Linked DNA regions of Homo sapiens. The protein of the gene in region 2 purifies or fractionates together with the protein of the main gene of each other region. This does not show direct contact. Each region holds a gene or a part of one and is shown on either strand. Other genes may lie near its edges.

Evidence for each region.
Region 1: the proteins of NSMCE2 (region 2) and PDS5A fractionate together in Homo sapiens (co-fractionation; one study listed by BioGRID). This does not show direct contact.

The regions. Positions count from the first base shown.
Region 1 is NC_000004.12:39,862,835-39,867,060, forward strand, and holds part of PDS5A (sister chromatid cohesion protein PDS5 homolog A), read right to left. Parts: intron 4,164-4,226; coding exon 4,027-4,163; intron 626-4,026; coding exon 502-625; intron 240-501; coding exon 35-239; intron 1-34. UniProt on the Homo sapiens protein: Probable regulator of sister chromatid cohesion in mitosis which may stabilize cohesin complex association with chromatin. May couple sister chromatid cohesion during mitosis to DNA replication.
Region 2 is NC_000008.11:125,363,732-125,368,438, forward strand, and holds the end of NSMCE2 (E3 SUMO-protein ligase NSE2), read left to right. Parts: intron 1-3,036; coding exon 3,037-3,154; 3' UTR 3,155-3,389; downstream 3,390-4,707. UniProt on the Homo sapiens protein: E3 SUMO-protein ligase component of the SMC5-SMC6 complex, a complex involved in DNA double-strand break repair by homologous recombination. Is not be required for the stability of the complex.

The DNA of each region.
Region 1 (4,226 bases), on a different chromosome or scaffold from region 2:
TATATTTGCACACGGAGAACTCTGAGTTACTTACCAGTAGCCATAGGATTCTGCTTAATGTATTCCCTGCGTATACTGATATTTTTCAGTAAACATTGTCGTGCGTGTGCTCTTCTCTCCTTCACAGGATCTTTGGCACACAAGGCAAAGATCGCCATATACTCCAATGGGAGCAGTAACTTCACAAGTGCCTTATGCAGCTTCTGAGCAAATATCTGCCTTACTTGGTAACACTCATCCTACAGCAGCACAGAAAAACTTAAATTGGCAACCATTTATTAAATAAAAAACAGCAGTTTAAGTATTTTTAGTGTCTTCAATTAAAAAGAAGATAATTATATGGGAGAATAAATAATGTAATAATTGGAAGACAGTTAAACAGGTAATAATAGTAGTGACTTTTGTGCATATATTCACATTATAAATGGATTTGTATCCATAGAAAAGTAATGTATTCAACTTTGAAGATAAGTAATTGACAAAAATAAGATTGTTACTTACATTAATAACAAGTGCACAGAGCTGAAACTGTTCTGGGGTAATAATTTCATGGTAACAAGGTTCCTGAGCAAGCTTCATTATGGCACTACCAGCAGCTAATCGCAAGCGAGACATATCAGATTTACTATAAACAAACAAAAAAGAAATAAACATTTCCTATAACCACTATCATTCATAAAAATGCTTTCGTCCCTTTTTGAATGTAAGGTCCTTAGAGCATAATTTATGTTTAAAATGACGTACAAATATGGGAAAGCTACTTTGAGTCCATGAACTTAACACAGGGGATTGTGACTTTCACAATCAAATCAAATCATTGTGACTTTCTGATTACAAATTTACCTGCCTTCATTTCTAGTCAAACTCTAGCTTAGATACTTCACCACAACCCAAAAACTCTGCTTATTCTTGCAACCATAGTAATTGCAAGGCTAGGAAAAACTCTTTACATCAGGAGCTGTATCCCTCATTTTAAGAGAAATACATATTGATTGTAGAAAACTTGATTAAAGTGGCCAGGCATGGTGGCTCACACCTGTAATCCCAGCACATTGGGAGGCCGAGGTGGACGGATCACGAGGTCAAGAGATTGAGACCATCCTGGCCAACATGGTGAAACCCTGTTTCTACTAAAAATACAAAAAATTAGCTGGGTGTGGTGGCACGCACTTGTAGTCCCAGCTACTTGGGAGACTCAGGCAGGAGAACTGCTTGAACCTGAGAGGTGGAGGTTGCAGTGAGCCAAGGTCGCACCACTGCACTCTACCCTGGCAACAGAGTAAGACTCTGTCTCAAAAAAAACAAAAAACAAAAAACAAAAAACAAAAAAACTTGATTAAAAAAACCACAAAGAATTAAAAAAAAAATCACCTATCATCATTTAAAATCTATTTCCTGCATATAAACATGTAACAGGAATCTAGTTTAATGCCTGCTGAAATGGCAGGGCTGCAGTTAAGAGTGAAGAAGTATCAGACAAATACCTAAAGGATATGAAATATAAGAGGCCAGTGTCTGTCTTAGGTACTAGTTCCTGGGGCTGATCTCCTTTTGCAGAGTAAAGTTTTCAAATGGAACCTATGAAGCCTTGGCACTCCCACCCCGACACTGTGGATTTTTATTACTTACGTGGTAAAATGTGGTAATGAATGGGATGGCATGGGAGTCTTTCTACTTCGACTTCTATGTGGAACATAGCATGGCTTTTGTATTTATTGTGACCACTTTACGAAATGCAGAAAGCTAGCCGGAACCCACTGGGACTGTTGCTAAGCATAGAGAGAAGAAAACCTGGCACTCTTGGACAACAGGATTGTTAAAATGAGCACTGGTAACAATGAGGGAGCCTCAAATGGTTTCTATGGCATTCATTCAGGAATCAAAGTTAATAGCTATTATGTGAGTGCTTACTCCGTGCCAGGCAGGTGTGAAAAACACTTTATAGGCTTTATCTCAATTAATTTTCACTCCATAAGATGAGGAAATTGAGGCTTACAAAAGGTAATACTATATTATATGATATCCAGTTAGGATCTGTCCAATGGGTGTTCATTCTATGGTTAACCATTCCCCTATTTTTTGTGATGGAAAATAATGCTGGAGGAACATGCTTGTGTATAAGCTTTCATATGATTCTTTTATACTCATGAATTATGAGTGTAAAAATAAAGAGTCAAGGATAACATTTTTGAGGATCTAGATGCAAAATGCCAAAGAGTCCTGCTAATTTATACTCATAGGAGTAATGAAGGAACCCATTTCCATGATCATACTGAGGAATGATTGCTTATAACGTTTTTTTTTCTTTCTGATTTGTAATGAAAAGAGGTATTGATTAAGTTTAAATTGTATTGACTGCATTTAGTGATGTTAAACTTTTAAAAGTAAACTGATAATAGCTAAACTTCATCTCCACTGGGGGTCCTGCCTAGGTATCACTGACTTGTAAGAGCTCATTATTATGCCTTTGCCATGTACTGTACATAATTACCCCCAATTTAAAGCTTTCATTATCCCTAACTCAGCTCTAAACAGTGTTATAAAAGGCTGCCTTTGGCTTATTCTATGATAAAAATAGAGCGTAGTGGTGCACACCTATAGTCCCACTACTCAGGAGGCTGAGGCAGGAGGATTGCTTGAGCCCAGCTAGCCTGGGCAACATAGTGAGATCCCATTCCTAATCACAATAATTTTTAAAAAAATTAATAGCATAGCAGTACCACATAACTAGCCAAAGCTGGAGTACAATGGCGTGATCTTGGCACACTGCAACCTCCACCTCCTGGGTTCAAGTGATTTTCATGCCTTAGCCTCCCCAGTAGCTGGGATTATAGGCACGTACCACCACACCTGGCTAAATTTCTATATTTTTAGTAGAGACAGGGTTTCAACATGACCTCAATTGATCTGCCTGACTTGGCCTACCAAAGTGCTGGGATTACAGGCGTAAGCCACTGCACTCAGCCTCATAAAGAATGATTAAACCTCTGTCCTCTAAAACAAATTTTTAAAAAGGAATGCATCATATGTAGAATACTTTAGTTATCTATGTTGGTAATCTTGGCCCCTACTAAATCAAGAATTTGACAGAAACCAGGATCATGAAAAACTGAGCTTCTATTTTCATCTTAAAATGAGATGGCAATTTTAGAGATTAAAAGTGAAAATGTGTAACAATGTAAACAATCTCTGTGTGCACATACAAGTGTACACACCCAAATCTGTAGAACAACAAGAAGGCTTCAACTCTCCCTTGAGTTGCCATTGCAATTTTTATTTTTATTTATTTATTTATTTTGAGACAGGCTCTCGCTCTGTTGCCCAGGCTGGAGTGCGGTGGCACGATCTCAGCTCACTGCAACCTCTGCCTTCTGGTTTCAAGCGATTCTCCTGCCTCAGCCTCCTGAGTAGCTGGGATTACAGGCATGTGCCACCATGCCTGGCTAATTTTTGTTTTTTGTTTTAGTAGAGACGGGGTTTCACCATATTGGCCAGGCTGGTCTTGAACTCCTGACCTCGTGATCTGCCCGTCTCGGCCTCCCAAAATGCTGGGATTACAGGCATAGGCCACCGCGCCTGGCTGCCACTTAAATTTTTATTACTTTCATGGGACTCAAGTCACTCCACTTATTTAATCGCTTTAATACAGGGATGCTCTTTGAAGGCAGGGACTTTTCCTACTTATTTTTGCTGCAATGCTTTTCACAGTGTTTTATGAAGTAGAAGTTTAACAAATACTTGTTTAATTGAACCAAATGTTGATGCTAACTGTAATAGTACAATATAGTGATTATGATTATGTATTTACTGGAAAAAGTTCCTCTTCTTTAGGAATGAAGAAAAATATATTGGCACTATTAAAATAACAATACTGACAGACAGACAAACCCTAAATGAGTACATAAGATCTGACCCTGAAGATCATGGTGTAATTACACCATTCAGTATTCATTAGGTAAATAATTCCTATGTAAATTCCACCAAAATTTCAGCACTAAGAAAACTGGAAAGAAAGAAAAATCTCACCTGATCCTCTTTTGCTCTGTCAGGTCACCCTCACTAACCAACATCGCTGATAATAACCGAAGGGTTGAATTGGCAGATTTAGACTGGTTGTTTTTCATACCCAACAGCCACCTTACCAGAAGTTTAATTGCCTGTACCTATAAAATATTAACATGCTAAAAAAAGAAAGCAACTTAAAATTCCAATTAAAGGGAAAATTA
Region 2 (4,707 bases):
GACTTCACAGCGTAGGGGGACAGGCTGGGAAAAAAATACAGATTTTTAAACTAGTGTAAAACATTTCTCCAGCCTTGCCCTAATGCAAAGCCAAATCATCAAAATGATGCATACCTGGGCCAAATCACCCTGATCCTCTTTCATATAATTGCCTTTCTGTAATTATGATTTAACACATCATGTACCTGAGTATGTAGGGCACTTTTTTTTTGTTTGTTTTGTTTTGTTTTGAGACAGAGTCTTGCTCTGTTGCCCAGGCTGGAGTGCAATGGTGCAATCTTGGCTCACCGCAACCCCCACCTCCTGGATTCAAGTGATTTTCCTGCCTCAGCCTCACGAGTAGCTGGGATTACAGGCATGCGCCACCACGCCTGGCTAATTTTTGTATTTTTAGTAAAGATAGGGTTTCGCCATGTTGGCCAGGCTGGTCTCAAACTCCTGACCTCATGTGATCCACCTGCCTCGGCCTCCCAAAGTGCTGAAATTACAGGTGTGAGCCACCGTGCCTGGCCATATTTTAATATTTTAAAAATAAATACTGTTATTAAGCATATTATATTTCATTGATTAATACCCCTCTAATGTAAAAACTCCTTGATCCACAGATCAGGGCCAAGAAATACTTTCTTTCATGTTGGACTGTTGGGCTTCCTACCACTAGACAAATTGGAGCTCCCATGACCAACTTTCTTTCCTTCTGGTTTGCATCTTTACTGTGGTTTGCACATTTGTTGTTTTTGGTCTTAATATCCTGTGCTTTATGGAGAGCTGTCTCAGATCACTGGGCCAGAGCTCTGTGTGGGCAGGAACCATGTATTTGTATTTCACAGTTGCATGCTTAGAACCTAGCATAGGGCTGATCCCTAGAAGAGTCAATTAATGCATGAATGGGTGCATGCCTGTGTGGGATATATGCAAGATAGAAATAGATCCAGAACTTTAAAACTTCTTGGAAGAATGATGATGAGGGAACACATGATAGTCACAGGGGATCTGGAAGGGAATTAACATTATTGAGCACAGAGGATCTGGGAGGGAATTAACAGTATTGACTGTCACCTTGGGAAATAAGGGTTCTCTCCCCATTTTAACTCAGAGGCAAGGGAGGCTCAAGAGGGTTATTGTGAATTGCCTGTGGTCTCATAACTAGCAAGTAGGTGGTAGAGAGAAAATTCAGACCTAGGTTAGCTTGACTCCAAACATTGGGCCTCTAATCTACCAAAATTTGGTTCACTTTGAGAACCAGATTCTTTGAGAAGAAATAGGTGGTTTCATCCAGCCCACTGCCCTCAGAGAAGACCACATCGAAGCAGAGCCGTGGCTTGTTTCCACCCCTTTGTGGGTGACTCACTGATGTCTTTAGCTGCAGCCTTTCCACCGAGTCCCAGTGGCCCACTCAGTCTCTCTTCTAGGAGGGCTACTGGGCATCCATTCCAGAGGAAACAGATACCAACCAGGACTGTGGTTCTGTGCTGCAGCCTGTTTTGCCCCATCGTTTCCCACTGTGATGAAGGGCACTACCAGTCACTGATCTACCCAGATGAAGCTCGCTTCTTCCCTTTCGCTTATGCTCCACAGCCACTCCATCGGCAAGTCCTATAGGTTCTATGGTCAAGCATGTCCTGAAGCTGATCGCCATACCACCCTCAGCCGAGCTGCCCTCACCTCTCTCCTGCACCCTGCAGGATCCCCCATGCTATTTTCCCTGCCCTTCTCTTACCTCCCTGTTTTGTATTCTCCATAAGCAGCCAGAGTAACATTTTCCAGATGTAAACCAAACACACTCCTCACCCATCTCAAAACCTTCCAGTGTTTTGTCTTCATATTTAAAATAAAATCCAAGTCCAGGCACGGTGGCTCATGCCTGTAATCCCAGCACTTTGGGAGGCCGAGGCAGGTGGATCACTTGAGGTCAGGAGTTCGAGACCAGCCTGGCCAACATGGTGAAACCCCATCTCTACTAAAAATACACAAAATTAGCCAGGCATGGTGGCAGGCGCCTGTAATCCCAGCTACTCAGGAGGCTGATGCAGGAGAATTGCTTGAACCCAGGAGGCGGAAGTTGCAGTGAGCTGAGATCACGCCACTGCACCCCAGCCTGGGTGAAAGAGTGAGACTCCATCTCAAAATAAATAAATTAATTAAATTAAATAAACTCCAAAGCCCCATTGGCGCACTGACCTCACTTCCAACTGCTCTCCCTCTTGCCTGGGTCGCTGCAGCCACATAGAGCTTGCTGTCACTCCAGGGCACCAAGCTGGAACGTCCTCAGCACTGCACTTGCTACTGCCTCAGCCCAGACCACATGCAGACTTGTTCCCACGCTTCATTCTGGGTCCTGCCCTAGATAAGATGTGTTCGGTGAGGCATGCCCTGAGTCCAGCCAGTGAAGCTGTGGCCCCAGCACTCTCTCTCCCTGACCCTGCTTTGTTGCCCTCATAGCCCATAAGGTGACCTGAACTTGCAGCAAGCATTTATTTGGTTCCCTAGTGGTTGCCTGTCTTCCTCATTAGAAAGATAGCTCATAGGCTGGGCGCGGTGGCTCACGCCGGTAATCCCAGCACTTTGGGAGGCCGAGGCGGGCGGATCACGAGGTCAGGAGATCGAGACCATCCTGGCTAACACGGTGAAACCCTGACTCTATTAAAAATACCAAAAATTAGCCGGGCGTGGTGGTGGGTGCCTGTAGTCCCAGCTACTCGGGAGGCTGAGGCAGGAGAATGGTGTGAACCCGGGAGGCGGAGCTTGCAGTGAGCCAGGATCGTGCCACTGCACTCCAGACTCCGTCTCAGAAAAAAAAAAGAAAGTTAGCTCATGATAAGGCAGGCACTACTCACATATCGCTTGTGTCCCCAGCACCCAGACAGGGCCTGGCTCAGGTAGGGACTCAGTGAATAAATGAATGAGCACAGCTTGGTCCTGATTTTGACACTTTTCCTTTTTCAGTAAAATGCCTTACTTAAACACTTGAGTATAAAAGAAGTTTCTGCTTAAGGCAGTAAAGGGGACTGACTTGATGTTCTTTCTTTCTCACAGTTGCCCTCAAATTGGCTGTAGCCACACGGATATAAGAAAGTCAGATCTTATCCAGGATGAAGCACTTAGAAGGGCAATTGAGAACCATAACAAGAAAAGACATCGTCATTCCGAGTAGGAAAAGCCACCTGCCTGCAGGGACACCAGCAGCCTACCTCCTACCCCAGCTGTCTGTTGAGAGCAGTGCTGACCCCAGCAGTTAGGGACTGGCTGCATAGCATACTTGTTGGGGGTAAAACTTGTTGCTTTTATGTGTGCTTGAAAACATTTTTCAAAGTTACACAACAGAAATGCAATCATATTGTTTATTTTTAAGTGTTCTATAATGTTAAATAAAACTTTGATCATCTGCAGTGTCCTCCCTGCATGCCTCCTGATGTATGGATTGTTCCAGAGGTGCAGGCTTTTCCATTTCAAGGACATCAGACTGATTTTTATAATAGTTTTGACTAAAGAATGTCTTTCAGCCAGGTGCAGTGGCTCATGCCTGTAATCCCAGCACTTTGGGAAGCCGACGTGGGCAGATCACTTGAGGTCAGGAGTTCAAGACCAGCCGGGGCAACATGGTGAAACTCCGTCTCTACCAAAAATCCAGAAATTATCCAGGTGTGGTGGTGCGCACCTGTAATCCTAGCTACTCGGGAGGCTGAGGCAGGAGAATCACTTGAACCCAGGAGGCAGAGGTTGCAGTGAGCCGAGATCGCACCACTGCACTCCAGCCTGGGCGACAGAGCAAGCCTCTAAAAAAAAAAAAAAAAAAAAAAAAAAAAAAAAAAAAAAGAATGTCTTTCAAGTGATATTTGAAATTGAAACATATAAAAACACCCCTATTGGGAGGCATTTTCTATGAGTATAGTAAATAATAGCATTTGGTTATAAAGCAAAGTCAGTTTACTTTCTTGTATTTACATTGTATATTGACAGTTCCAAACATATAAATGCTTTTATTGTCATTCTGAATGGAATAGAATGCTCCAGTGACTGGCTAATCAGTGCATTGCAGTGATGATTGATGCCTATAATGAATACTTTGCTGCAGCCCTCCAAGAGCCTAAAGTACCATCAACAGTAACCACATTCCAGCTGCTCTCTGTTTTTCTAGATGGTTCACTGCAAGTGACTTCATCCCTCTGGATGTTGGTGTCTTCAGCCATAAAGTGAAGGTGTTCAACAAGATGCTCTCTAATGTCTCTAATCAACAAGATGCTCCCTAATGTCCTGTGACCCCTGAGAGTCTATGGACTGACACCAGCAGGGTCTTTAAATTGAATGTCTTCAATTATATTCTAATTGTGTGATGAGCACCAATCTATTGTCTCCATTAGCAACCTTTTATCAACCTTACTATTTAATTAAACCAAATTTGAAGCATACCCTGATGGCACTGGAAAACCAAGAATAGCTAATAATAGCTAACATTTATTGAGTACTTATTTACTGTATACCAGGTGCTATTCTAAGTGCTTTACATTATATTAACTCCTATAATCTTCATAGCCCAGTGAGAGAAGGACAGTTCTTACAGATAAGGAAAAGTAGGCACAGAGAAGCGAAGTCACCCATGGAAAGTCAGAGATGGAACTAGGAAATGGCTGAGCTGGGACCAGAATCTGGAGAGCCCAGTCCTAAAATCTCCATTCTTAACTCCATACTCTCCTCCTCCCTATTGAC